Homo sapiens: one gene and its partners. The protein of the gene in region 1 purifies or fractionates together with the protein of each later gene. This does not show direct contact. Each region holds a gene or a part of one and is shown in the gene's direction. Other genes may lie near its edges.

Region 1 (3,146 bases):
TCAGCCTGATAGAAACGACTTGTGGTACAGGCCCTAAGTCAGGTACGCTGCTGCCCAAGAGCCTGACTGGTAGATGGAGATGTGAAAGGGACACAGGGCTCTCCACGTAAGCAGGAGGCAGCAAGAATGACAGTTCCAGGGGTTCTACGTGGAAGGAAGAGGGGGCCAGGAGGAAGGGACTTCAGGTCAGATTGAGGGGGCATGTGCCATCCGGAAGAGGAGAATGTCGATGTAACTGTGAAAGTCCAAGTCCTAGCTGCTTTTCCACTGCCCTGGTGTACAACCTCAGGCCCTGCAGACTGCACATCTGAGGACCCCTGCCTGCCCTGTCTGGCTTCTCTGAATCTAATAAGGGAGAAGATGCGTTTGAAAAAGAACACGGAAGAGGGAGAGAGAAAAAAAGCACCAAGGTCCATGTTCAGAGAGCCCTGGTAATTTTAACTTGCAACTCACCCAAGAAGAGCCTAATGGTCGCAAGAGTATGTAGGAAGGCCCCAACCCGACCCGGCCCAGCACGCAGCACCCAAGGGCGGCTGGAAGCGCAATGCGCGTGCCCAGTACAGCGCTATTCAGTCTGCAGGCTTTTTGAGGATTTCAACTTCAAAGAACGGTCGGCTTCGGGGCGAACTTTGCTTCAGTTCCAGGCCTCGGGAGGCAGCGAGGAGACAGACTGGGACACCGAGCATGCAGAAGGGGAGTGGTCTTGAAATACGCGGAAAGGGAGAATGCACCCCTCCTGGCCAGCCTTGCCGGGCGAAGTGAGAAGTACTGAGGCCTGAGAAGGCTCCACGCGTGCGCAAAGGGCCGCTCGCTGTGATTACTGGGGTGGCGATGGTTGTGATGACGCCGCTGCCCCGCCTGCGCCGAAAGGGAAACCCCAGGGGAGGCGGAGGCCAGCGGGGATTTCTGAAGCCAAGTGGTCCCCTTCATCCACGACGGACAGGAAGGGCGACCCCCTGAGGCCACTTCCAGGTCTTGCGACCGGAGGAGAGTTACCAAGGAGACGCTCCTCCCGAGGCCTCGCGCGTCGGAAGCTTCTGTCCCCTGGATTCCGGTTGACGGACGCGTCCCCCGAGCAGGTTCTCGGTAGCAGCCGACACGCCCCACCCCGGGCACAGCGAGGTCTGAGGACCACGCTAAGGCGTCACGTCCGCCCTGATCCGCGGCAGCTATGGAACGGGCGGAGCCGCAGCGGAGGGCGCTCCGCTTTGACGTCACTTCCTGTGAGCCCGGCGGTGACAACGGCAACATGGCCCTGAACGGAGCTGGTGAGGACCTGGGCGGCAGGGGTTTGTGGCTGTGAGGTACGGGAGGCAGCCCACTCCGGCAAGACCCCCAGTCCCTATGCCTCTCTTCCCCAGAAGTCGACGACTTCTCCTGGGAGCCCCCGACTGAGGCGGAGACGAAGGTGCTGCAGGCGCGACGGGAGCGGCAAGATCGCATCTCCCGGCTCATGGGCGACTATCTGCTGCGCGGTTACCGCATGCTGGGCGAGACGTGTGCGGACTGCGGGGTGAGGCGAGACTCGGGCGAGTGACCGGGGATGGGTCCGCGGGCCAGGCCACTCAGCCCTTCCCCGGCCCTCCCCTCTGGACCCCATTGCCGGCGTCTCATTCCGGCCCCGTGTGCTTTTTGGTCCGTAGACGATCCTCCTCCAAGACAAACAGCGGAAAATCTACTGCGTGGCTTGTCAGGAACTCGACTCAGACGTGGATAAAGATAATCCCGGTAAGAGTAAAAAATAATCCGGGAGAGGGGCCGGATATGCTTAGGGGGGAAGCGTGGTTAAGTGGTGATAGAGGCCCGAGAACAGTAGGGCTGAGAGGTGACAGTGGAGTCTCTGGGTGGGGTAGAAGTAAAATTATTTCTCCTTTAGGCTCTAAAGAGGACCCTTAACTCAATAAGAGCACCAAGCACCTCCTGTGTGCCAGCCACTGCGCGAGAGTCTGAGCTCAACCAGGCCCAGTACTGATGGAGAATTGAAGCTAGGGCATAAATGTGATACAAAGTAGAAAGTGGATGAGTTGCCTTATAGAGGGACAGGGAAAACACCTCAAGCACAGAAAGAGCAGAGCAGAAAAGGAGATGGCTCAGGGCTGAGGTGGGCCAGGCATCCTGACCATTCCACCCACTTTCTCCTCTTTTTAGCTCTGAATGCCCAGGCTGCCCTCTCCCAAGCTCGGGAGCACCAGCTGGCCTCAGCCTCAGAGCTCCCCCTGGGCTCTCGACCTGCGCCCCAGCCCCCAGTACCTCGTCCGGAGCACTGTGAGGGAGCTGCAGCAGGACTCAAGGCAGCCCAGGGGCCACCTGCTCCTGCTGTGCCTCCAAATACAGATGTCATGGCCTGCACACAGACAGCCCTCTTGCAGAAGCTGACCTGGGCCTCTGCTGAACTGGGCTCTAGCACCTCCCTGGAGACTAGCATCCAGCTGTGTGGCCTTATCCGCGCATGTGCGGAGGCCCTGCGCAGCCTGCAGCAGCTACAGCACTAAGAGAAGCCCCTGAGAAAAACCCTCTAGAAAAACAGCTGTTCCTCTGTGTGGTTTGTTTTTTTCCTGGTTCCAAGTGTGCATGCCAGCCCCAGCTCCACTCACCTTTTTCCAGCTTTTGGCCTCTTCACCTCTCCACTCTGCTCTCCTTGACGCCCTGAGATGAGTTGAGCTTGTTTCTTCTCAGTTTCCCCAGTCAGGATGAGGGAGTAGGTAGAGGACTATGTGATGCCCCTTTTCTAAGGAAGAAGCCATAGCCTTTTCAAAGGTAGCAGCCAGAGGGGTGGACCCTAGCCTTGTCTCTGGCAGCACCTCTGCAGCCTCTTCCGCCATCTGGTGTCCATTCCCCACCTGGAAGTGAGGTTTTGTGTTCCGATCCCCTTGATAGATTCCCCTCCTTCCCCTGAGCATCCTGACCCTATCAGCCTATCCCATCTCATGCCCACCCCAGGTACTCAGACACCGACAGGAGTTTGTGGTGACCCCAGCGTCAGGTGGCACGTTAGGCACCAAGTGTGGACTTGCCAGTCTCCTGACTCCACTGTTAGATCATTTTCCTTGGGTGTGGGGGCGGGGCGGGGCGCGGCGGGGAGACGGGGTAGCAAAAAGAACCGTGAAGAAACCACGCCTGCCCCCTTCAGCCTTTTCCCCCCTCCG
Region 2 (3,084 bases), on another chromosome or scaffold:
TAATATTTTGATTCAATAAACAGATTATGACTGTACACATATCCTTCCAATAATAAAGGATATTCAGAGTTAAAACTCAAGTATATTTCCAGGTTCCTTAAATTGTTATAGGATTTTATTTTGTTTTCTTCTTATTCCAAGAGCAGTGGCATACTGTAATGAGGTATGATTATTGTCGGATATTTTCTAGTCTCATGGTATGCAACTACCACAAATAACTAAAGGCATGAAAACTTGTATTATTTCATATCTTCCTATTATGCATATGCCATCTTTCTGAACTAGTGGTTTTGGCAGGATTTAGGAAACCTTTACAAATGACACTACGATGTAGGCAGCTCAATAATTATTACGTATTTTAGTGGAGTTATGCAAATGTTTGCTCATTTTGTTGATCTTTTGGATTCAGCTACGTTTGGTACTTTTTTTTTTTTTTTGCAGTTGCAAGATTTAATAGAGTGAAAACAGAGCTCCCCTAAAATGGGAGGGGACCCAAAGGGGGTTGCCGTTGCCAGCGGTACATTTTTTATTCTGTATTGCTATTTATAATCACATTATGTTGGCCGGGCACAGTGGCTCACGGCTGTAATCCCAACACTTTGTGAGGCCGAGGCGGGCGGAACACAAGGTCAGGAGATCGAGACCATTGTGGCCAACATGGTTGAAACTCCGTCTCTACTGAAAATACAAAAATTAGCTGGGCGTGGTGGCATGCACCTGTAGTCTCAGCTACTCTAGAGGCTGAGGCAGGAAAATCACTTGAACCCGGGAGGTGGAGGTTGCAGTGAGCCAAGATTGCGCCACTGCACTCCAGCCTGGGCGACAGAGCGAGACTCAGTCTCAAAAATAATAAGAAGGCCAGGTGCAGTGGCTCACACCTGGAATCCTAGCACTTTGGGAGGCCGAGGCGGGCGGATTGCCTGAGTTCAGGAGTTTGAGACCAGCCTGGGCAACACGGTGAAACCCCGTCTCTACTAAAATACAAAAAATTAGCTGGATGTGGTGATGTGCACCTGTAGTCCCAGCTACTCAGGAGGCTGAGGCAGGAGAATTGTTGGAACCCAGGAGGCAGAGGTTGCAGTGAACTGAGATCGTGCCACTGCACTCCACCCTGGGCAACAGAGCAAGACTCCGTCTCCAAAATGATGATAATAATAATAATAATGAAGAGAAGGAGGAGGAGGAGGAAGGAAGAAGAATTGCATTACATTATGTTTCCTTGTGGGGCCGGGTATAGTGGCTCATGCCTGTAATCCTAGCACTTTGGGAGGCCAAGGCAGTCAGATCAGTTGAGGCCAGGGGTTCGAGACCAGCCTGGCCAACATGGTGAAACCCCGTCTCTACTAAAAATACAAAAATTAGCCAGGCATGGTGATATGTGCCTGTAATCCCAGCTAGTTGGGAGACTGAGGCAGGAGAATCGCTTGAACCCAGGACGCAGAGGTTGCAGAGAGCCGGGATCATACCACTGCACCCCAGCCTAGGCGATAGTGATACCCTGTCTCAAAAAAAAAAAATTGCATTATGTTTCTTTGCTTTGTGAATTAAGCTATGGAAATGAAGAAAAATATCCTTTGATGTATTGTATTTTAGGATTTTCATGGCCATGCTTGTCAGTTCTGTTGTTACAGAATGTCACCCTTAGTTACTTTGGGAAATGGTAATTAATTAACGTTGCAGGTGTCAAAGTAATTTCCTCTCTCTTATTTTTCAGCTATACTGACTTCTGTTGAAACCATTCAAAGCTAAAGACATGGACCTTCAGCAGTGTAAGAAGATATTGTACAGTATATTTTAAATCTATGAAATTCATAGTTCTGATGCTTTTGGTCACAGAGCATCATTTTATCACTTCTGGAAAATGTTTATTCCAAAACAGCTTTAATGGCCCATATGTACACTTCGTAATCTCAAGGTTATTATTCTGACACCAGCTTGCTGCTATGATTTCAGAGCACATAAGTAAAGGTGCTTTTTAATGTGCAGTCTATTTCCAGAGCTTACTTAGTTGCTGATTTCCAGATTTCGATGTTTCTTAAGTCTAGGTGAATTTATATATATATTTTTTTGCTTTTCATTTTCTAAAGTTAGTTATTATTTCCATTGAAGCTTGTTTTCTTTTTTTTCTTCCCATTTTAGCTACTGCAGTGCTTTTGTTTCACACTTGATTTGTAAAAATTTTATATATATGTATTTAAAATGTGCCATTTTATTGCTAAGTGAAGTATGTCCTGTTTTCTGCTATAATTCTTTCTCGGTCAGATTGCAATGTCAGCAGTTACTGCCACACTCCTGTCAGCTTAAACACAAATGTTACTGCTTATCTTTTCTTAAAAAAAAAAAAAACAAAGTGTAGGTATTTTGAAGTACTGGGCTTATATTTCATTGGAATACATGTGTACAGCAATAAGCAGGTTTCCAAATCCGGTACTTAGTTTGTGTACAAATGTAATTATGTTCATTGTGTATATATTATACAATGAGCACATGTAATGTATTAAAGGCTACTTACTATTGTTTAAATGCAAATGTTCATATCTCATTTCTTTTTTTATCATGTTAAATAAATGTTGATGTTCTTAAATCAGTGTTAGAATTTTTGTTCTTTCCATCCAAAATTGAAAGTCTTAAGACTCAAGAGACCTCTAGAAGAAAAGGTACTCTGTTAATTTTATAATCCTAGACAACATCTTAAAAGATCCTTGTCGGTCCAACCCTCCCATGTCAAAGTTGAGGACCTTGAGGCTCAAAGAGATCAATTGAGTTGGCCACAATTTAATGACAGAATTTTGACCAGACTATAGTTTTTTCTGACTTTTTCTCTAAGTACATTACATTAGCTCATTACCACTAGAGGAGTTTAGTTTTGTGAAGTCTTTTACCACGTTTCTATTTGCTTCCATGTTTCAGAAAGTAACTTCAAGCATCAGTAGTCCTGCTCTGTTTAGGGATTGGACTTTGAGAGAGGTGTGTAAGGCAGCTGTTTGTCTGACATGGGTAGCTAGAAACCGTTTCATCGTAAGTAGGACCCTCAGAGATCATTTTCTCTTACAATACATTCTTTGCAGATGTTCACGCTCTTCA
Region 3 (3,500 bases), on another chromosome or scaffold:
TTAGATAGCAGTAGCAAAATTAGTGAAAGTACCGAAAGTCTCTGATAAGCAGAAATAATGGCGTAAGCTGTCTCTCTTTCTCCCTCTCTCTCTGCCTTGGCTGCCAGGCAGGGAAGGGCCCCTTGTCCAGTGGACACATGACCCACGTGACCTTACCTGTCATTGGAGATGGCTCACACTCCTTACCCTGCCCCTTTTGCTTTGTATCCAATAAATATTAGTGCAGCCAGACATTTGGGGCCACTACCGGTCTCTGCATCTTGGTGGTAGTGGTCCCCCAGGCACAGCTGTCTTTTCTTTTATCTCTTTGTCTTGTGTCTTATTTTCTTTTTTTTTTTTTGAGGCAGAGTCTTGCTCTGTCGCCCAGGCTGGAGTGCAGTGGCGCAATCTTGACTCACTGCAAGCTCTGCCTCCCGGGTTCACGCCATTCTCCTGCCTCAGCCTCCTGAGCAGCCGGGACTACAGGCGCCCGCCACCATGCCCGGCTAATTTTTTGTATCTTTAGTAGAGACGGGGTTTCACTGTGTTAGCCAGGATGGTCTCAATCTCCTGACCTCATGATCCGCCCGCCTCGGCCTCCCAAAGTGCTGGTATTACAGGCGTGAGTCACTGCGTCCAGCCTGTTTTTTTTTTTTTTTTAAATCATCGCAAGTGTTTTCACTAGTTGGTACTTTTACGTCATATCAGTGGCAACTCCTGCCTTTGAAAATGTGACTTTTTGTAGACTGGTGGGTGGCCGTCTAGTATAGGGCACAGCAGTGTCTGACCTGGTCAGAGAAAGGCCAGTGCTTCTGAAGAATCGGGAGAGAGGTAGACTTGCCCCTGGGTGGCCCTGCCTTCTGCCTCCCTGAGCAGGGACACCCAAGTACATTTACTACCCAGAGTGTGTGGCTTCAGGTGTGTGTCTTATGTTTGATCTCTCCATCCGTGTCATCTTCGTGGACAGCTAAATAAAACCAGCTGAATCAGTGAAGGACTTGTTGATTTAAACATCAGTCATACTTTAGGTCAGATGATTAACAGCACTGATGTTTAGAAATATGATACTGCTTTGCACTAGTTTCACTGCATGTTAAGGCCAGTGAATTCAAAAATTATCTGGGCGTGGTGGCGCATGCCTGTAATCCCTGCTACTTGGGAGGCTGAGGCATGAGAATCGCTTGAACCAGGGAGGCGGAGGTTGCAGGGAGCCGAGATTGTGCTACTGCACTCCAGCCTGGGTGACAGAGCCAAGACTCCAGTAAAAAAAGTAACATAGAAATGTTTTGTGTCTTTCAGAAAATTATGCAACACTTAGAAGGAGAAGGCCTAAAAAATGTCATTTTTACCAACTGTGTAAAGGATGAAAATGTCAAGCAGGTAGGCTTTTCGTCTGTGCTCTCTCTGACGCTTCTGCTTCAGTAGGTTCGAGGAGCATTATAAACTGTTTTATGCTTTAGTAAGAAGCAGAGCTTTGGAAAAGATCCTAGGTGTTGGTTTCCAGCTGCCACACACGGATGCGATCTCCTGGGGCAAGTGGGTCTCCCTGTACTGAGGGCACAAGGTCAGGCTGTAGACGCATTCCAGGGTTGTAGGTGGTCAGAGTCTTTTGGAGACTCAGGTAGCTCATGTTTCCAGTTGTATGTGGTAGAATTTTCTGGCTTGATGTGTTTCTTCATTAAAAGGTAGTTACAGCTGTCACTGAAGCCCCGGGTCTGCCCTGCTTGTTTTTGATGGGAGGGGACGGGCATAGGTGGTCCCCGGCCCCAGAGCTCAGTCTGACATCTGTGACCTGGACAGAACTCCAGTTTCCCAACACCGGATACTTGGTGTGCTACCTCCAGATGAAGGGTGACGCCCAGTTTGCCTATGAAATGTTGGGTAGAATTCCAGATAGGAGGTTTCTGTTTTCCTAACGGATATGTGAAAGTGGAGACACTGGAATCCCTAATCCTGTTCTGAGGTGGCAGAAGGAGCGGGTCAGTGCACAGACGTCCGACCTGGGGTGGCTCCATGAGTGGGTGTTTGTTGCAGATCATCCCGATGGTCACTGAACTGATTGGGAGAAGCCACCGCTACCACCGAAAAGAGGTTGGTTGGTGGGGCCCAGAGCTGGGAGTGGGAGGCGGGCGTGGGATGGGCCAGCCCCTCCTGCCTGGCCTCTCCAAGGAGAAGGCGCAGCGCCCCAGGCAGGGAGGCCCCTCCTTTGTCCTCTCATTCTCTTCAGTGGAAAGGGCCGAGGCCGTCCCCGCTGGGTGGGCAGAGCCTCGGCGTTAACCTCCCTTCTTCCCTGAGCTGACCTGGCCTGGGGTCCCCTTGCCTGGGTGGGGTTGCAGAGTCTCAGGCTCTAGCGGCCACGGTGGGCCCTGTGACCCCTCTCTCTGCCTGCGCAGAACCTGGAGTACTGTATCATGGTCATTGGGGTCCCCAACGTGGGCAAGTCCTCCCTCATCAACTCCCTCCGGAGGCAGCACCTCAGGAAAGGTACTGGCGCGTGCGGCTGATCACCTCAGGAAAGGTACTGGCGCGTGTGGCTGATGTGCTGATGCCACCATCTTTCTTGGAGGGGACGTGCCCGAGGAGCACTGCCAGTCTTCTGCTGACCCCGCAGCCCCAGAGCACATCTTGTCTCGTTCAGTCCAGTTCACAGGAGGGCTGAACAGTGGGACCAGGTCGTTCTGTGAATTTCACACTTAATTTTTCTCTCTTTTAAAATCTTTAACATGAAGATGGCTTTTCTAAACTTTGATATTTGTTCATTTATTTAAATCCCTTTGGCCGGGTGCATGGCTCACGCCTGTAATCCCAGCACTTTGAGAGGCCGAGGCGGGCGGATCATGAGGTCAGGAGATTGAGACCATTCTTGCTGAAACGGTGAAACCCCGTCTCTACTAAAAATACGAAAAATTAGGTGGGTGTGGTGGCGGGCACCTGTAGTCCCAGCCACTTAGGAGGCTGAGGCAGGAGAATGGCGTGAACCCGGGAGGCGGAGCTTGCAGTGAGTTGAGATTGTGCCACTGCGTTCCAGCCTGGGCGACAGAGCGAGACTCCGTCTCAAAAAAAAAAAGAAAAGAAAAGAAAAAAAATCCCTTTGATCCAGAGAATACAAAGCGTGTGAAGTAGACGGGGCTGGATTATCAGGCAGGGAGGCTGCAAGGCCATTCCTCCATGGCGTCCGCCTTGCCTTTGCTGGAGGGTTCCTGGACTCCGGAGTCGCAGGCGCTCCTTTCCTCCCTCTGTGCCTGTTCTCAGACTCTGATTCAAAGCAGGAGCCCCGAGCACCCTTCACTGCCCCGTGGGCTCTTTTCCTTAAGTATTTTCAAGTTTAATTCAAGTCCTTGTTGGCTTCATTTTTCATATTAATAAGGCATTTATTAACAAACCCATTCATGATGTGCAAATCTGAAGGCTTTAAACTACGGTGAACTGTTATTTTACAGAGAGGGTGTTTTTGGTGCTAATTGGAGCATTGTTACAGTCATTTATTCTTTTAAGTTTATTTTTAAGCGTATTATTTTTTA
Region 4 (3,500 bases), on another chromosome or scaffold:
GGGTCCCATACCGCCCTACGGACCTGTTCGATGAGGTGCACCTCCACCCTGCCCTCCCAGCCCCCTGCCCTGGCTCCGCCTGACCATGGCTTACCTAACCTCCTGCTTACCCCGCTAGCTGGTGGCCCACGAGGTGGCAAGGATGCGGGCGGATGAGAACCACCCCCAGCGTGTCCTGCGTCACGTCCAGGAACTGGCAGAGCAGCTCTACAAGAACGTACGAGGGTAGCAGGACGGGAGGGCGTCGTACCGCCTTGATCCCTGGGCCCCTGCCCCACACCTGCCGTCTCCCCACAGGAGAACCCGTACCCAGCCGTGGCGATGCACAAGGTACAGAGGCCCGGTGAGAGCAGCCACCTGCGACGGGTGCCCCGACCCTTCCCCCGGCTGGATGAGGGCACCGTGCAGTGGATCGTGGACCAGGCTGCAGCCAAGATGCAGGGTGCACCCCCAGCTGTGAAGGCCGAGAGGAGGACCACCGTGCCCTCAGGGCCCCCCATGAGTGCGTAATGAGGGAGGGGAAGGCAGGCCCCGAGCGTGGCCCAGGATGGGCGTGGGGTCAGGGGTCCGAGTGTGTGTATTCTGTCCCCGCAGCTGCCATACTGGAGCGGTGCAGTGGGCTGCATGTCAACAGCGCCCGGCGGCTGGAGGTTGTGCGCAACTGCATCTCCTACGTGTTTGAGGGGAAAATGCTTGAGGCCAAGAAGGTGAGGGCTGTGCAGGCTCCAGCCGGGCCAGGGCAGCGGGTTTCAGAGGAGACCCAGGCTGCACTTCACCCTTGTGAGTGCTGACGCTGCCCCAGGGCCTCCTCTGCCTAACAGACAGCTAGAGGTGGCTGGGCTGGCCGGAGGGTAGGTGGGCTCCAGGTCTCCTCTCTTGACCTCAGTGAGGGGTGGGTCGGGCCTGCGCGGGAGACCCAGCCAGGGAGATGTACTTCCATTTTTAGAAATCAGAAGGTTTCACTATTATGTTTCGTCTGTGTCCTTCCCCTTAAATTGGGTAGGCCCATACACGACCTGTTCTTTGTACTTGATGGAAAACAGAGCTTGCTCCCTCCATACGTGACCTGTTCCTTGCATCTTATGGAAACAGAGCTTTTTGCTCCTGCTGTTTTGCTCTCTGTGGTGCTCACTTAACGCCTCTGGGGTCTTTCATCATGGCCAGTTGGAGACTCTTGTTTTTCATTGGCTGTATGGTGTCCCTTTGGGGCGGCCAGTTTTGTGATGAACGTTGTAGCAATAGAACGCAAACTCCAAGGCTTTCTGTGGCCGGGCCTGTGCCAGGCGAGTCACTGAGCCAGCCAGGCAGCTGTGAGCCTGTGAGCAAGGGGGCCCGGCCCGCAAGGCCTCCCTCCGGAGCGCACCTCCCTGCCAGCTCACAGGTGCAGCATCTGCGTCCTTGTGTCTGGCCTGGTGAACTTGTACTTGTGGAGTTGTCGGGCCCACTGGAGGTTTTAGTCTTTATTGGTCGGCAAAGCCCCAGAGTCTGGCACACCCCACCTGAAAGGCATTTGGGTCTCCTGGACACCTGCTGCCCTCCCTGCCAGGGCCCCGAGTGGGTCTTCTCTGTGCCCTCAGCCCGTGTCTCCTTTCCCCACCCCCAGCTGCTCCCAGCCGTGTTGAGGGCCCTGAAGGGGCGAGCTGCCCGCCGCTGCCTCGCCCAGGAGCTGCACCTGCATGTGCAGCAGAACCGTGCGGTCCTGGACCACCAGCAGTTTGACTTTGTCGTCCGTATGATGAACTGCTGCCTGCAGGTGAGGCCTCTTATCCTGCTAGTGACATGGCTCATGGCGCATGAGCGGGAACAGGCGGGCAGACCCTGGTCTGTGAGTGAGAGTGGAGAGACGGTGCAAGAGACTCCTGTGCCAGTGGGCAGGGGTCCTCGGTCTGCAGGGAACAGGGTGGAGAGAACCATTGTTGGGGGCAGGTGCTGGGGCCTGGGGTCTCCTGATATTGAGCCTCTGAGGCAGCCTTGGGGAGCTGGAGCCAAGGGTGTCAGGTGCTGGTCTGTGGTGGTTATGGGGTGGTGGGGGCATGGTGGGAGGTGAGTGCTGCCTGGGAGGGGAGAGGTCCTGACGGTCTCTCGCTCTACCTGCAGGACTGCACTTCTCTGGACGAGCATGGCATTGCGGCGGCTCTGCTGCCTCTGGTCACAGCCTTCTGCCGGGTGAGTGCTGGCATGGCTGAGGTCTCCTTCCCAGCCCCCCCTTCCTGGTGGCTGAGGTCTCCTTCCCAGCCCCCCTTCCTGGTGGCCGAGGTCTCCTTCCCAGCCGCCCTTCCTGGCTGCATCCAGCTGACCTTCTCCCCTGGCTCCTGCAGAAGCTGAGCCCGGGGGTGACGCAGTTTGCATACAGCTGTGTGCAGGAGCACGTGGTGTGGAGCACGCCACAGTTCTGGGAGGCCATGTTCTATGGGGATGTGCAGACTCACATCCGGGCCCTCTACCTGGAGCCCACGGAGGACCTGGCCCCCGCCCAGGTGCGCAGGGACTCCCTGGGCTGGGGGCTGGGGGCTAGGGGCTGGGGCAGCGTGGCCCCGGCTCATGCGTGTGGTGCCGTGGCAGGAGGTTGGGGAGGCACCTTCCCAGGAGGACGAGCGCTCTGCCCTAGACGTGGCTTCTGAGCAGCGGCGCTTGTGGCCAACTCTGAGTCGTGAGAAGCAGCAGGAGCTGGTGCAGAAGGAGGAGAGCACGGTGTTCAGCCAGGCCATCCACTATGCCAACCGCATGAGCTACCTCCTCCTGCCCCTGGACAGCAGCAAGAGCCGCCTACTTCGGGAGCGTGCCGGGCTGGGCGACCTGGAGAGCGCCAGCAACAGCCTGGTCACCAACAGGTGAGGCAGGGACTGGGGGTTGGGCCCAGTGGAGGCGGGGCCGTGGTGGGCAGGGCCCATGCCCACAGTTTCTTCTCTGGCCCAGCATGGCTGGCAGTGTGGCCGAGAGCTATGACACGGAGAGCGGCTTCGAGGATGCAGAGACCTGCGACGTAGCTGGGGCTGTGGTCCGCTTCATCAACCGCTTTGTGGACAAGGTCTGCACGGAGAGTGGGGTCACCAGCGACCACCTCAAGGGGCTGCATGTCATGGTGCCAGGTACGGGGGTTTGGGCTGGTGATTCCCCCTTGGATGGGTGGGGCTGGGCACAAAGTGTGAGAACTGTCTTCCCCCAGACATTGTCCAGATGCACATCGAGACCCTGGAGGCCGTGCAGCGGGAGAGCCGGAGGCTGCCGCCCATCCAGAAGGTTTGCGGGGGCCGTTGGGGCTGCGGGGGCCCAAGGCCCGGGCTGCATCCTGAGCTCCTGCTCTTGTTTTCGAGCAGCCCAAGCTGCTGCGGCCGCGCCTGCTGCCGGGTGAGGAGTGTGTGCTGGACGGCCTGCGCGTCTACCTGCTGCCGGATGGGCGTGAGGAGGGCGCGGGGGGCAGTGCTGGGGGACCAGCATTGCTCCCAGCTGAGGGCGCCGTCTTCCTCACCACGTACCGGGTCATCTTCACGGGGATGCCC
Region 5 (3,500 bases), on another chromosome or scaffold:
CAGACCTCCTGCTCCCTCCTGCCCCCAACCTGGGGTGGATGTTAACTGTCTCCAAGAGGCAGGGGCAAGATGGATTGAGGTGGGAGCTTAGGGAATATCCCTGGGACTTGCAGCTGGTGGGCTCCAACCCTCCTTTCTGCATTTTTGGGACCCAGCCTGTAAGAGGAGTGCTGAGGCAGGAGGTCCCCCTGGGTCCTCAGCTCTCAGGTTAAGTCTTAAGTAGAATGTCGGGGGGATGCTGGACAGGCCTGAGCCCTGACTCCCAGCCTGTGGGGTGGGGTGCATTAGCATTAGCTGGTCCTGGCCCCAGAGCTGAGTCACAGGGTGGAGGGGTAACGGAGAACAGGGTGGGGCCTCTGTTTCCCCCCGACCTCTGCAGCCTTTGCTCCCCATCCCTGGCCTCCTGCCTGTCTGTGGATACCTAACCATTGCAATGGGTTCATTCTTACTCTTTGGGCTCCTCATCAGCAAAAGAGGCCTTTCCTTCCTCTAAGGCCATGGACAGGAAAAGTCTATAGATGCACTTCCACTGTGCCAACTTTCTCGGCAGGTGGAATCCAGGCTAGTTCAGTATCTCCTCTTTAGCTAGGTTCCTTCTGCGGAAGTTTAACTCCAGTTTCTTCACCCTGCTGTTTTCTACCTTTCTTCTTACGGTTCTTCCTACTCCTTGGGACCTTCTTGAATCCCTGTGTCCAACGTCTGGGGGCCCCACACATATGCCTGAAGGACCTGGCATGGGCTCCCTGCAGCAGAAGTGGTGTCCGACCCCCAGCTGTGGAGGACCAGGCAGGAAAGAGGCTGGGAGTCCTGGGCAAGTTCCTGCCCCTCAGGGCCTTGGCCTCCTCTGTACAGTAGTAGGATGGAGGTGGAATCGAGGGTTGGACACCTGATCTTTTGGGCCTTTCTAGCTCTGAAGTCTCTTACTGGGTCCTATCCTGGGCCTTGGGGTGATCCCCCTTCTGCTGCCCAGGGCTGGGCTGTTGAGATGGTGCAGGAGGTGGTCCAGGGAAGGTGGCAGAAGGACTGAGTGGGCTGGGAGCTGGGGAATGCAGATTTCTTTTGGGCGCTGTGTGAGCAGCCCTGGAGACTCTCTGAACTTGAGTCTGTTTGCCTGAAATGCTACTATTAGCCGATTAGCCATGCACTTATCAACTAACATGGATGTTGCCCCTTCTAAAGGCATCCAGAGTTATTCCCAGCATGTAGAGCCCTGGGCCTGATATACAGTAAGTGCTCAATGAATGCATTTAGAATGCACTGGACAATTTGAGCCAGGGAGTGAAGAGAATATTATCTAGACAGCCCTCAAGAGCCCTCCTTAAAGGAGAAGTGGGAAAGCATGGGTATTGAGCATGCTATCTGTGTGTAGTGGGTGCGTTTGCAGTGCTCAGGGGTGTGCTGTCCTCTATGCCAACCCTTCCCTGCTCCTAATCTTCTTTGTATGGTGGATTCTCTGCAGCCCTCGGCGACTGAGTGCCAGGCACAGGCAAACTTCCTTCTCTTCCCAGCAACTGTCCCCACTGGCTTAAAGGCAGAATTCGTCAAGTCCCTTTTAATTCAGAACTGAAATTCATTCACCAGCTGCTTGTTCATTCATTCAGATTCTTCTAAATTGGGTCCTCTGCCCAGGTTCATCTCCACCCCCCATCTGTCACCTGGTTATTACACAACCTCCTCGAGTTCCCTGGGGGCTGGGATGAGGAGGGAACAGGGCGTGCATGTCTGGGAGATACACCAGGTGGCCTTTGAAGAGTTGTTTTAGAATCAGCAGTGTGATGGGGGTGGGGGTGGGGAGCCAGGGCACAGGTGACATGGGAGAGACATTCTGTCAGGGGAACTGGGAGAGGCTCCAGTGTAGAAGTGGCACCTGATCGGGGCCATGAATTATGAATAGGAATCCAGGGGGCAGAGGTAGGAAGGTAGGAAAGAGCCAGGTGAGTTTGACGAACATGGGGGTCAGTGTGGAATGCGTGCAGGGGCCAACTCCCAGAGGTGAGGGCCCCCCAGGCCAGGCAGATTGGTGTGGACCTTGATCTGTAGGTAGTGGAGAGCTAGGAAAGGTGCCCAGCTTGGGATACCTCTTTAGATGCTGCAGAGAACCTGTCAGAGGCTGGGGCGGAGGGCAGGGAGACGTGGCGGGGCTGTTGTAGCAGTCCAGTGAGGGACAGGGTTGAATCAGTTCAGCAGGCCTATATCAGGATCTGCTGTGGGCCAGGCCTTGTTCTGGGTACCAGAGACACAGAGAGGTTGAGGACAGGCTCTATCCTCATTGAATTCATAGTCCATCAAGCAGGGCTGTGACTGGTCACATGTGGGCTACTGGTGGCACTGCACATTTGGAGAGAAGATGATGTGCTTGGTTTAGGAGGTGCTGAGGGTGATGGCTTGGGTAACATCCTGGCAGAGACACCCAGGTGGCTGGAATGTGGGTCTGGGGCTCAGGAATGACGTCCGAGTTGAGCTGATGAGGGTGCTGTCTGCCCTCAAGGGTACAGGGAGCACATGGAGATCAGAGCCCTCACACGCTGTCCTCTGCTCTGCCTATGCCAGGCGCCTTCGCCAAGGTGAAGGAGAGCCAACGCATGAGTGACGAGGGCCGCATGGTGCAGGACGAGGCAGACGGCATTCGCAGGCGCTGCCGCGTGGTGGGTTTCGCCCTGCAGGCCGAGATGAACCACTTCCACCAGCGCCGTGAGCTCGACTTCAAGCACATGATGCAGAACTACTTGCGCCAGCAGATCCTCTTCTACCAGCGGGTGGGCCAGCAGCTGGAGAAGACCCTGCGCATGTATGACAACCTCTGACCGCGTGTGCCTGGGCCCCCTCCTTCCCCTGGGCCTGGTCACTGCAGTGTACCCCACTTTCCCGACCTCCCTATACCAGCAGTGACTGGGGGAGGGGTCAGCGGTGGGGGAGATAAGCGGCCTGTCCTGCCTCCTGGGAGAAGGAGCTTTCAAGGAGTCATGGGTGCCCCTGGGAAATTCCCCACTCCTTAGAAGTGGGGCACAGCAGGGGTGAGAATAGAGTCAGGAGCCCTCGAGGCCAAGGCCTGGGCTGCCGGTCAGTCAGTGAAGGTCAGGCCAGGGTCTCAGCCTCCCCTAGAGCCTATTTTGCTTGCTCACCTGGCCACTGCTGCCTTATCCATTCAGCAGACACCGAGGCCTGCTGCACCCTTGGGTCGGATGCTGGGCACCCAGGGCTGTGACATGCCTGCTCTTCAGGAGTCCTCAGTGAAGGTCGGGGTCAGACACAGACAGAGTCAATGCAGTATGACTGATGTTTAAGTGAGGGATTTCTGGAAGCTCATAGAAGGGACCACAGCATTCCACTGGTCAGGGAAGACTCCATAGAGTAGGCAACATTTGGGCAGTGTTTTGAAGAATGACAAGGGCCTGCCAGACAGTACATGGGGGAGAAGGACTTTCAGGGGAGAGGAACAGCATGGGCAAAGTTATGGAGGCATGCAAACATCTCCCTCTTCTCTCCCTTACTTTCCAAGC
Region 6 (4,106 bases), on another chromosome or scaffold:
CCATGTTTGAGCTCTTAGTGTGTGGACTGTCCCACATTCACTTGAGACAGTGTAACCAGTCCTTTACCTATCTGGTATCACCACCAGTTTCCTTGGGACATAAGCCCAAGGTACAGTCTGATCCAAACTCTCCCCTTCCTTCATCCAAGCCCTTCAAGTTATTCCTCCCTGGTCTAAGCCCAGCATTATTCCTTTCTTAGAATTCTTAGAATGTCAGAGCTGGTGGGGAGGTGGTAGAGACCTCAGAACCCTGACAATCCTCTGGTTCTTGGCTTGCGGCCCAGATTCCTAGGAGTCCAAAACAGTAGGGAGGGAGCCTAAAGTTTCTGACATTTTGTTTTTTTTAATAACTTTTTTTTTCTAACTACAAAGTAATGCATGCTTAATGTAGAAAACTTGGGAAAGGCAGAAGTATAAGAGAATTTTTAAAATCACCCTGTTTGTCCCATTCATCCCTTTAGCTTCAGTGATCCAGTGCCTGGCACAGATACAGATTAGGTACTTAATACACATTTGTTAAACACATTATCTTCAATTCCATTACCCGGAGATAAAAACCACAGTTAACTTTTTATTTTTATTTTTTATTTATTTATTTTTTTTTTGGAGAGATGGAGTCTCGAACTCCTGGGCTCAGGTGATCCTCCTGCCTCTGCCTCCCAAAGTGCTGGAATTACAGGTGTGAGCTCCCGTGCCTGGCAACAGAGTTAACTTTTGATTGTTTTGCCTTCCAACATTTTATATATGTTTTATACAAAGGGGATTATATTATACACCTTTGTAGCCTGCTTTTTTTCCTCTCAGCAATATACTTACTATGTGCGTTTTCCCATATCGATAGCTTCTTTACAACACCATTTTTAATACTTTCATATCATTCCTTCAAATGGCTATACCTTTTCCTAGCCAATTCTGGGAACAACTGACCCCCTGGCATTTGGCATGGGCCCAGGACAGAATGTGTACTGTAATGACCGCCCCCCGTCCCAATTCTCCAGATAGGACATTAAGTTCCTGCCAGCATCTGCAGCCCGTCTCCTGACTCAAAGTTCAGGCTGCTGCTCCAACATAGTGCCACTCAGAGGAGGGCTCCACACCTGCCCCCAACCTTGCCCTGCCCTGCCCTGCCTTGGCCGGCGCCGCGCACCTAAAGCGCCGCTCTGGCGGTGGGGCTGGACAGAAGAGACCCTGCGCGGTCCGGCCGCTCGCCGCGCATGCTCCTTCCTGCGCGCTGCCCTCCCCGGCCCCGCCTCCGCGGCTCCCGCCCGCGAGCGGTTGGGATTTGAATCTGCCGCGGACTGCAGCCGGAAGTGTCGATCCCTCAGCCAGGGCATGGAGCTCTCCTGCCCCGGTTCGCGGTGCCCGGTGCAAGAGCAGCGTGCCCGCTGGGAGCGGAAACGCGCCTGCACCGCCCGGGAGCTGCTAGAGACCGAGCGGCGCTACCAAGAACAGCTGGGGCTGGTGGCCACGGTGGGGGACCTGGCACACGCTCCCATTATAGGACAGGGACCCCAGGGTGTGGGAGGGTCTCTGCGAGGTCGGTAACCCGGAGCATGTAGGGAGCCTGGGCAGACTTCTGCGGTTTCTGGGGGCGCTTGGCGTTAGCCTTCTCTTCCTCTAGGCTAAGAACCAATGTTCTCTCCTTCCGCAGTACTTTTTGGGGATCCTGAAAGCCAAGGGGACCCTGCGACCACCTGAGCGCCAGGCCCTGTTTGGCTCCTGGGAGCTCATCTACGGCGCCAGCCAGTGAGTGGAAGGGGCACAGGGAGAGGAAAGGAGGGAGAGTCCTGGCCTGTGGCCGTGCACAGAGCTTGGAGTCAGACTTAGGTTCTATTTGGAGTCCGCCAGTTAGCTCACCTGTGGCCTTGGCCCAGGGCCTTAGCATGCCCTTGTTCTCCATCTGTACAATGGGGTAATAGCACTACTATTAGTGCTATTCTCATGAAAACTAAATGAGGTGGTGCTTGAGTGGTTCTAGAGCTGCCCTTTTGCTGTCCTTGCCCACACAGGGAGCTGCTTCCCTACCTGGAAGGAGGATGCTGGGGCCAAGGGCTGGAGGGCTTCTGCCGCCACTTGGAGCTCTATAACCAATTTGCTGCCAACTCAGAGAGGTCCCAGACCACCCTGCAGGTAACCTGGAGATGACCTCAAATCTTGCCCCTTACCTTTCCCCTTCATCTGGAGACCCAAACTTCATACATTTCCTGCATTTATAGAGCCCTCTGGGTGCTCAGCTCTGTGGTAAGTTCCTTGTAGAGAAACGAGAGTTTCTCTCAGGAGCACAGCTTACTGAAGGCTGGGAATGTGGATACAGATGAATGCAATATAAGGAGTGGCTTCTCTCCCTGCTTCCAATCCTTTCTCCCTCACTCCAGGAGCAGCTAAAGAAAAATAAAGGTTTCCGGAGGTTTGTACGGCTTCAGGAAGGCCGCCCTGAGTTTGGGGGCCTTCAGCTCCAGGACCTGCTCCCTCTGCCTCTGCAACGGCTCCAGCAGTGAGTGAACTCTTGATTCCAGCCGCCTCTCTCTTTTAGTTTGTATGACTGCTGCCCTCAGCTTTGTGGGATGCCTTGGGGTCGATCCCAAACTCTTGCCTCGACCCTGAGCCAAATTGCTTCTAAAAACCTTTTGCAAGAGTAAATGTGAACCCATTGGAGTACCCAGGGTCTGCAGCCTGAGGCCCTCAGCTGGAACTGTGGAACTTTAAATTGAAGTGAGGGGGCCTGTACTAGGGCCTGAGGCACGGTTTCTGGAAAAGTTTCAGATGCGGGGCTGGCCTGGGTTAGAATTTCTGTCTCTGGGTTAAGCCTGAGTTAAGGGCTATAGTCAGGCTGTCTGTAGCATCCTCCTTGGGTTGATAAACTTTCATCTTCCAATCTGGCCTCCTGAAGTATGGCTAGTCTGCCAGTGACTCTTCAGTGTGGGATGGAAGAGGGCTGTGTGGTGTGAGCCTGGTTCTGAGTCCTACATGAAAGAAGGGGATACAGTAGCCAGAAGCAGATCTTTCCTGGCCTTCAATTGAAGTATGGGTAGAGGGTGATCTGCACATCAGGCAGGGGGAATTCTGCCTGGCTCTGCTTCCCCTCAGACTTCCCACTGTTGAATTCCAGGTATGAGAATCTCGTCGTAGCTTTGGCTGAAAACACAGGTCCCAACAGCCCTGACCATCAACAGCTCACACGTAGGTTCTTGCTCCTCGGCAACGCAGGCTGGAGGCTTCCTCTCCTGTATTCCTTTCTGATTCTGACCTCCAACAATGTCTGGTATGACCCTATCTTCCACTGACATGTATACAGTGTCCCTACTGCTCTGCCTTTTCTTCAAGAAGTCAGACCCTGACCCTGGTCCCTTCCAGAATAACCTCTTTCACAACCATGGCACCCAAAGTCAAAGTTGTATGGGGAGTAAGGTGGGAGATGTTATTCCAGGGGCTGCCCGACTGATAAGTGAGACTGCCCAGAGAGTCCATACTATTGGTCAGAAACAGAAGAATGACCAGCACCTTCGGCGTGTCCAGGCTCTGCTCAGTGGACGCCAGGCAAAGGGGCTGACCTCAGGTAGCTTGCCTACTTCCCCTTCAATCCTCAACTGCCCCATCTTTTATTTTTATCTAACTCCAAATGCCGACCAGCTGCTCTTTTCTTACTCACCCTTCTTCCTGTACTGACCCAGCACATAACCCCTATTTTCTCAGCCTCCCTTTCCTCTTATTCCCATGTATCTTGAAGCTGCACCAGAATAACAGCGCTCCCATCCCCCAGGGCGCTGGTTCCTACGCCAGGGCTGGCTGTTAGTGGTGCCTCCCCATGGGGAGCCTCGGCCCCGCATGTTCTTCCTCTTCACTGATGTGCTCCTCATGGCCAAGCCTCGGCCTCCACTGCACCTGCTGCGGAGTGGCACCTTTGCCTGCAAGGCCCTCTACCCCATGGCCCAGTGTCATCTCAGCAGGGTCTTTGGCCACTCAGGAGGCCCTTGTGGTGGGTTGCTCAGTGTAAGTAATAGGTGGGAACCCTAGACCCAAAATATGTCTCAGATGCTTATGGGCTGGTTTATCTCCCTGGTCTGGGTCCCTTTTCATAGGAACAGAGCCATCTACATTGAGAGAGG
Region 7 (3,500 bases), on another chromosome or scaffold:
CCTTATACAACCATCAGATCTTGTGAGAACTCATTCACTATCATTAGAAGAACATGGGAGAAACTGCCCCTATGATCCAATTACCTCCACCTAGTCTCTCTGCCTAGACACGTGGGGATTATGGGGATTATAATTCAAGATGAGATTTGGGTGGGGATGTGCAGCCTAACCATATCAACTGGTGTTCAGATGAAGAGGTTGTAGAAGCATATCTACTGCTTAAAGAGGGAAATTGGAGTCAGCAAGCTCTGGGCTTGGTTTTCTTCCACATTTAAAACAAACCCAAGGAAGAGATGGTGCAGCCGTGCAAGCCCCTGGTGGATCTGTTGTGTCTCACACAGGTTTTCTATTTTCTCTGTGTCTTCAGCAGTGTGCATCTTACTTAAACCGCCTCAGGGCTCCTTTCATCCCCAGGCCCAGTCCTCAGCTTGACACATCATAGGCCCTCAGCACCTAAGTGTTCTGAGAGGGAGTGCAGCTCCTAGAGGTCCATGTCCCATGTCCTCCTGCTTCCTGCATATCATTTGGGCCCCAGTCGGTCCTTGTTACTGCGGGTCTTGTGCTGTCTCTGGAACAGCCCTTTATGGGCACCATCTACTCACTCATTCACTTCTGTTGGCTGACGTGGCCCCTGAGCTCTCTTCCTGTGCTTAGTTAGGCCGCGCGAGGCCAGAGGTTGAGTGGGGAGGCTTCCAGCCCCTGCCTTCTGTCCCAGCTTCAGGCTGGCCTGGTTCCATGTCCTGCTGTCCTGCTTCAGCCATTCCTCTATGTGGCTTTCAGTCCTCTCACAGATTTCTTCATTTTTGCAAGGTAGCGTGGGAATGATGACTAGCACATGGCAGCACACATCAGGCAGGTTTATGAAATTATGTTTTAAGAGAACACAGAATCACAAATTACTCATCCTGTATATGTGTTAAAATGTGTAACCTAATTGCTGAACAATGAAAAGCAATTCCTTTTATATTTAAAAACTCACTAGTTAGCTGAGAACCTAATGGTAGTTGCAATGTACTTTAAATAGAAAAGTCCTCTTGCTTGACAAAGGTAAAGGAAACTGTTCGGTCCGACTTTGTTCCTTTCATGCCTGCCAGGGCTTCTGGTTTCACGGAGACCTCAGGCTAGGAGCAGCCCTGAGCAGGGAGACTGAGTTACAGAGAATCCCCACCAAGTTGCAGGCAGAGGGACAGCCGAGGCCCTCAGGAAGTACACGAGAGCAGAACCACTATGGCAAGTTCACTGAGAAATCTGGAAAGTTAGAATCCCAGCCCGAGTCCATCAAATGGAGCATCATAAAATTAAGTTTTCCTTACTGTGAAATGGCAATTTGTAATGATTTCTGAGAAGTGGGACCCATGGTGGTGTCGATGTCTGAGCCAGGTGAGGGTGAGATCCCTGGCGCCATGGGCTGGCCCCCAGGATGCCCTGGAAAACGCATTCTGTTCACAGCTGTGTGATTCTTTTCTTTCTGTGTTGGTGAAGCAGCCAGACCCGGTCCGTTTGGAATGCCTGGGATGGTGCCGCCGCATGTTCCTCCTCAGATGCTCAACATTCCGCAGACCTCTCTGCAAGCAAAGCCCGTGGTAAGGCCTTCCCTGCGTTGGGTCGGGTGGCGGGTCTCAGACAGGGTGCGTGCATTGAATTTCAACGAATGCTAAAATAAGTTCCTAACCTCTTGAATTGATACGTGAAATAGATGCCAGTGTTTGTTGAAATAAAAATGAGCCAGGAAACGTCAGCCTGGGCCTGAGTCGGGTCCTGCTGGCCACGTGTGCGTGACCTGTGCCCTTCGCTTCAGGCCCCACAGGTGCCCAGCCCAGGGGGCGCCCCGGGCCAGGGTCCATACCCGTACAGCCTCTCTGAGCCAGCACCTCTCACTTTGGACACGAGCGGGAAGAATCTGACGGAGCAGAACAGCTACAGCAACATTCCTCACGAAGGGAAGCACACGCCGCTGTATGAGCGGTCCTCGCCCATCAACCCGGCCCAGAGCGGCAGCCCCAACCACGTGGATTCCGCCTACTTCCCTGGCTCTTCTACATCGTCATCTTCCGACAACGACGAGGGCAGCGGAGGGGCGACAAAGTGAGTGGTGCGTGGGTCGCTGGGTGCTTCCTGGCGGGTAGTGACCTGGGGAAGCTGCCTTCTGGCCTGCCAGCCCAGCTGGTGTTTTGCTCAGAGATGTAGTTTATTGCAGGTGGGTGATGGTCAGTCTGTACTCAGATGGGGGCTCCTTGGACAGAGAGGAGAGAGGAAGAGTAGGTATGTTCTTGAAGTTTCCATGATTTAAAATCTGCACTATCCCAGCCCCATGGCCTGGAGCCACAGGAAACTTTCTGGGGAGGAATTTGACAAGAACTGGTTTGTGTGATGACCAAAACATGGGGGCATTTGTCCGGTGTGGTGCCACTCACACCCGTCACAGCAACCCCCTGCCGACCCCCGAAACATTAATCTTCTGGCTCCTGGATCAAGGGAGCTCTGAATTTCCTCTCCTTCTCCTAAACTCAGCAGGTTACAGGACACTTTGGAAATAACACTGTTTGCCCAAGCAAAACCCTAGAAAGCTGCCTAGACCCAGGCTGGAATTGTTTCCTTAGAGGAGTATTTTAAACACTGTGTGTCCCTGAATAAATGGGTTCACAAATACATAGTTGGTTAAAATTTGATCGAGGAAATCTTTAATTTGCACTCCTCCCTTTCTTTAAATTGTCTTATGTTTAAAACAAAAAAAACAGGGAAAGAATATTTCTTTTCTTTAAGTCAGTGTCTCCTTTTCCTTGGTGTGAACTCTACTTTACAGCGCAGATAACCAGGGCTGGTTGATGTTACATCTGTTTCTGATGTAGGAAATGTAAGAGACATAGGTGTCAGCTTCCATGCCAGTTCTTACCTTGTGTGTCACCTGAAGCAGGTGATCTTTTCCTCTCTGTCCTCTGTCCATCTGTGAAATGGGAATAAATGTCTGTTGACCCAGGGCAGAGCTTACTGAAGGACTCTCTGCCATCCAGGGATGCATACCCTGTTTATAGCAGAGAAGTATAACATTAATAAATGTTGATTTGTTGTATGTGCAGAGAAGTATAAAATTAATAAATGTTTATTTGCTGTATATGCAATGCCAAGACTCTAAAATGAAGTAAAGAGTTGCAATTGAATATTCAAATTTTTAAATTAACCTCTAGCAAGATAATATATTGAGTACCCATTGAATCAGAATCTCTGGTTGGGGCCCCCAAATTTGCATTTTAAATAAGCACCTCAGTCAGTCTTTAGCACACTGAAGTTTGAGAACAACTGCTTGATGGTCTTGGAAGCCCTTATGTGCCAGATTTCTAAGGCATGTGCATTTTGTTGTAAAACGTGACTCATGTCAGCAAGGTCCAAGTGTCTGTACAATACAGTTTTTGTCTTAGTAAGAAATGTTCTTTCTAAACTGTGAAACATAGGTAAGAAGTAAGACAAAAAGCAAAAGAAGTAAGCTTTATGACCCCAACAAG

The links.
Region 2: the proteins of ZNRD2 (region 1) and PLEKHA5 purify together in Homo sapiens (co-immunoprecipitation; 3 studies listed by BioGRID and IntAct, with this or other methods). This does not show direct contact.
Region 3: the proteins of ZNRD2 (region 1) and MTG1 purify together in Homo sapiens (co-immunoprecipitation; 3 studies listed by BioGRID and IntAct, with this or other methods). This does not show direct contact.
Region 4: the proteins of ZNRD2 (region 1) and SBF1 purify together in Homo sapiens (co-immunoprecipitation; 3 studies listed by BioGRID and IntAct, with this or other methods). This does not show direct contact.
Region 5: the proteins of ZNRD2 (region 1) and SNX33 purify together in Homo sapiens (co-immunoprecipitation; 3 studies listed by BioGRID and IntAct, with this or other methods). This does not show direct contact.
Region 6: the proteins of ZNRD2 (region 1) and ARHGEF39 purify together in Homo sapiens (co-immunoprecipitation; 3 studies listed by BioGRID and IntAct, with this or other methods). This does not show direct contact.
Region 7: the proteins of ZNRD2 (region 1) and FAM120A purify together in Homo sapiens (co-immunoprecipitation; 3 studies listed by BioGRID and IntAct, with this or other methods). This does not show direct contact.

The regions. Positions count from the first base shown.
Region 1 is NC_000011.10:65,569,243-65,572,388, forward strand, and holds ZNRD2 (protein ZNRD2), read left to right. Parts: upstream 1-1,234; 5' UTR 1,235-1,249; coding exon 1,250-1,268; exon of another isoform or gene 1,269-1,361; coding exon 1,362-1,513; intron 1,514-1,643; coding exon 1,644-1,728; intron 1,729-2,148; coding exon 2,149-2,492; 3' UTR 2,493-2,646; downstream 2,647-3,146. UniProt on the Homo sapiens protein: Might play a role in mitosis. Antigenic molecule. Could be a centromere-associated protein. May induce anti-centromere antibodies.
Region 2 is NC_000012.12:19,373,817-19,376,900, forward strand, and holds the end of PLEKHA5 (pleckstrin homology domain-containing family A member 5), read left to right. Parts: intron 1-1,714; coding exon of another isoform or gene 1,715-1,749; 3' UTR 1,750-2,584; downstream 2,585-3,084.
Region 3 is NC_000010.11:133,397,157-133,400,656, forward strand, and holds part of MTG1 (mitochondrial ribosome-associated GTPase 1), read left to right. Parts: intron 1-1,278; coding exon 1,279-1,359; intron 1,360-2,013; coding exon 2,014-2,070; intron 2,071-2,372; coding exon 2,373-2,463; intron 2,464-3,500. UniProt on the Homo sapiens protein: Plays a role in the regulation of the mitochondrial ribosome assembly and of translational activity. Displays mitochondrial GTPase activity.
Region 4 is NC_000022.11:50,461,536-50,465,035, reverse strand, and holds part of SBF1 (myotubularin-related protein 5), read left to right. Parts: coding exon 1-35; intron 36-118; coding exon 119-217; intron 218-297; coding exon 298-502; intron 503-594; coding exon 595-707; intron 708-1,603; coding exon 1,604-1,753; intron 1,754-2,097; coding exon 2,098-2,166; intron 2,167-2,318; coding exon 2,319-2,477; intron 2,478-2,562; coding exon 2,563-2,831; intron 2,832-2,916; coding exon 2,917-3,089; intron 3,090-3,166; coding exon 3,167-3,240; intron 3,241-3,317; coding exon 3,318-3,500. UniProt on the Homo sapiens protein: Acts as an adapter for the phosphatase MTMR2 to regulate MTMR2 catalytic activity and subcellular location. Promotes the exchange of GDP to GTP, converting inactive GDP-bound Rab proteins into their active GTP-bound form.
Region 5 is NC_000015.10:75,654,412-75,657,911, forward strand, and holds part of SNX33 (sorting nexin-33), read left to right. Parts: intron 1-2,550; coding exon 2,551-2,804; 3' UTR 2,805-3,500. UniProt on the Homo sapiens protein: Plays a role in the reorganization of the cytoskeleton, endocytosis and cellular vesicle trafficking via its interactions with membranes, WASL, DNM1 and DNM2. Acts both during interphase and at the end of mitotic cell divisions.
Region 6 is NC_000009.12:35,662,396-35,666,501, reverse strand, and holds the start of ARHGEF39 (rho guanine nucleotide exchange factor 39), read left to right. Parts: upstream 1-1,306; 5' UTR 1,307-1,332; coding exon 1,333-1,470; intron 1,471-1,651; coding exon 1,652-1,746; intron 1,747-2,009; coding exon 2,010-2,130; intron 2,131-2,375; coding exon 2,376-2,494; intron 2,495-3,109; coding exon 3,110-3,180; intron 3,181-3,427; coding exon 3,428-3,556; intron 3,557-3,760; coding exon 3,761-3,990; intron 3,991-4,106. UniProt on the Homo sapiens protein: Promotes cell proliferation.
Region 7 is NC_000009.12:93,514,185-93,517,684, forward strand, and holds part of FAM120A (constitutive coactivator of PPAR-gamma-like protein 1), read left to right. Parts: intron 1-1,482; coding exon 1,483-1,583; intron 1,584-1,798; coding exon 1,799-2,085; intron 2,086-3,500. UniProt on the Homo sapiens protein: Component of the oxidative stress-induced survival signaling. May regulate the activation of SRC family protein kinases. May act as a scaffolding protein enabling SRC family protein kinases to phosphorylate and activate PI3-kinase.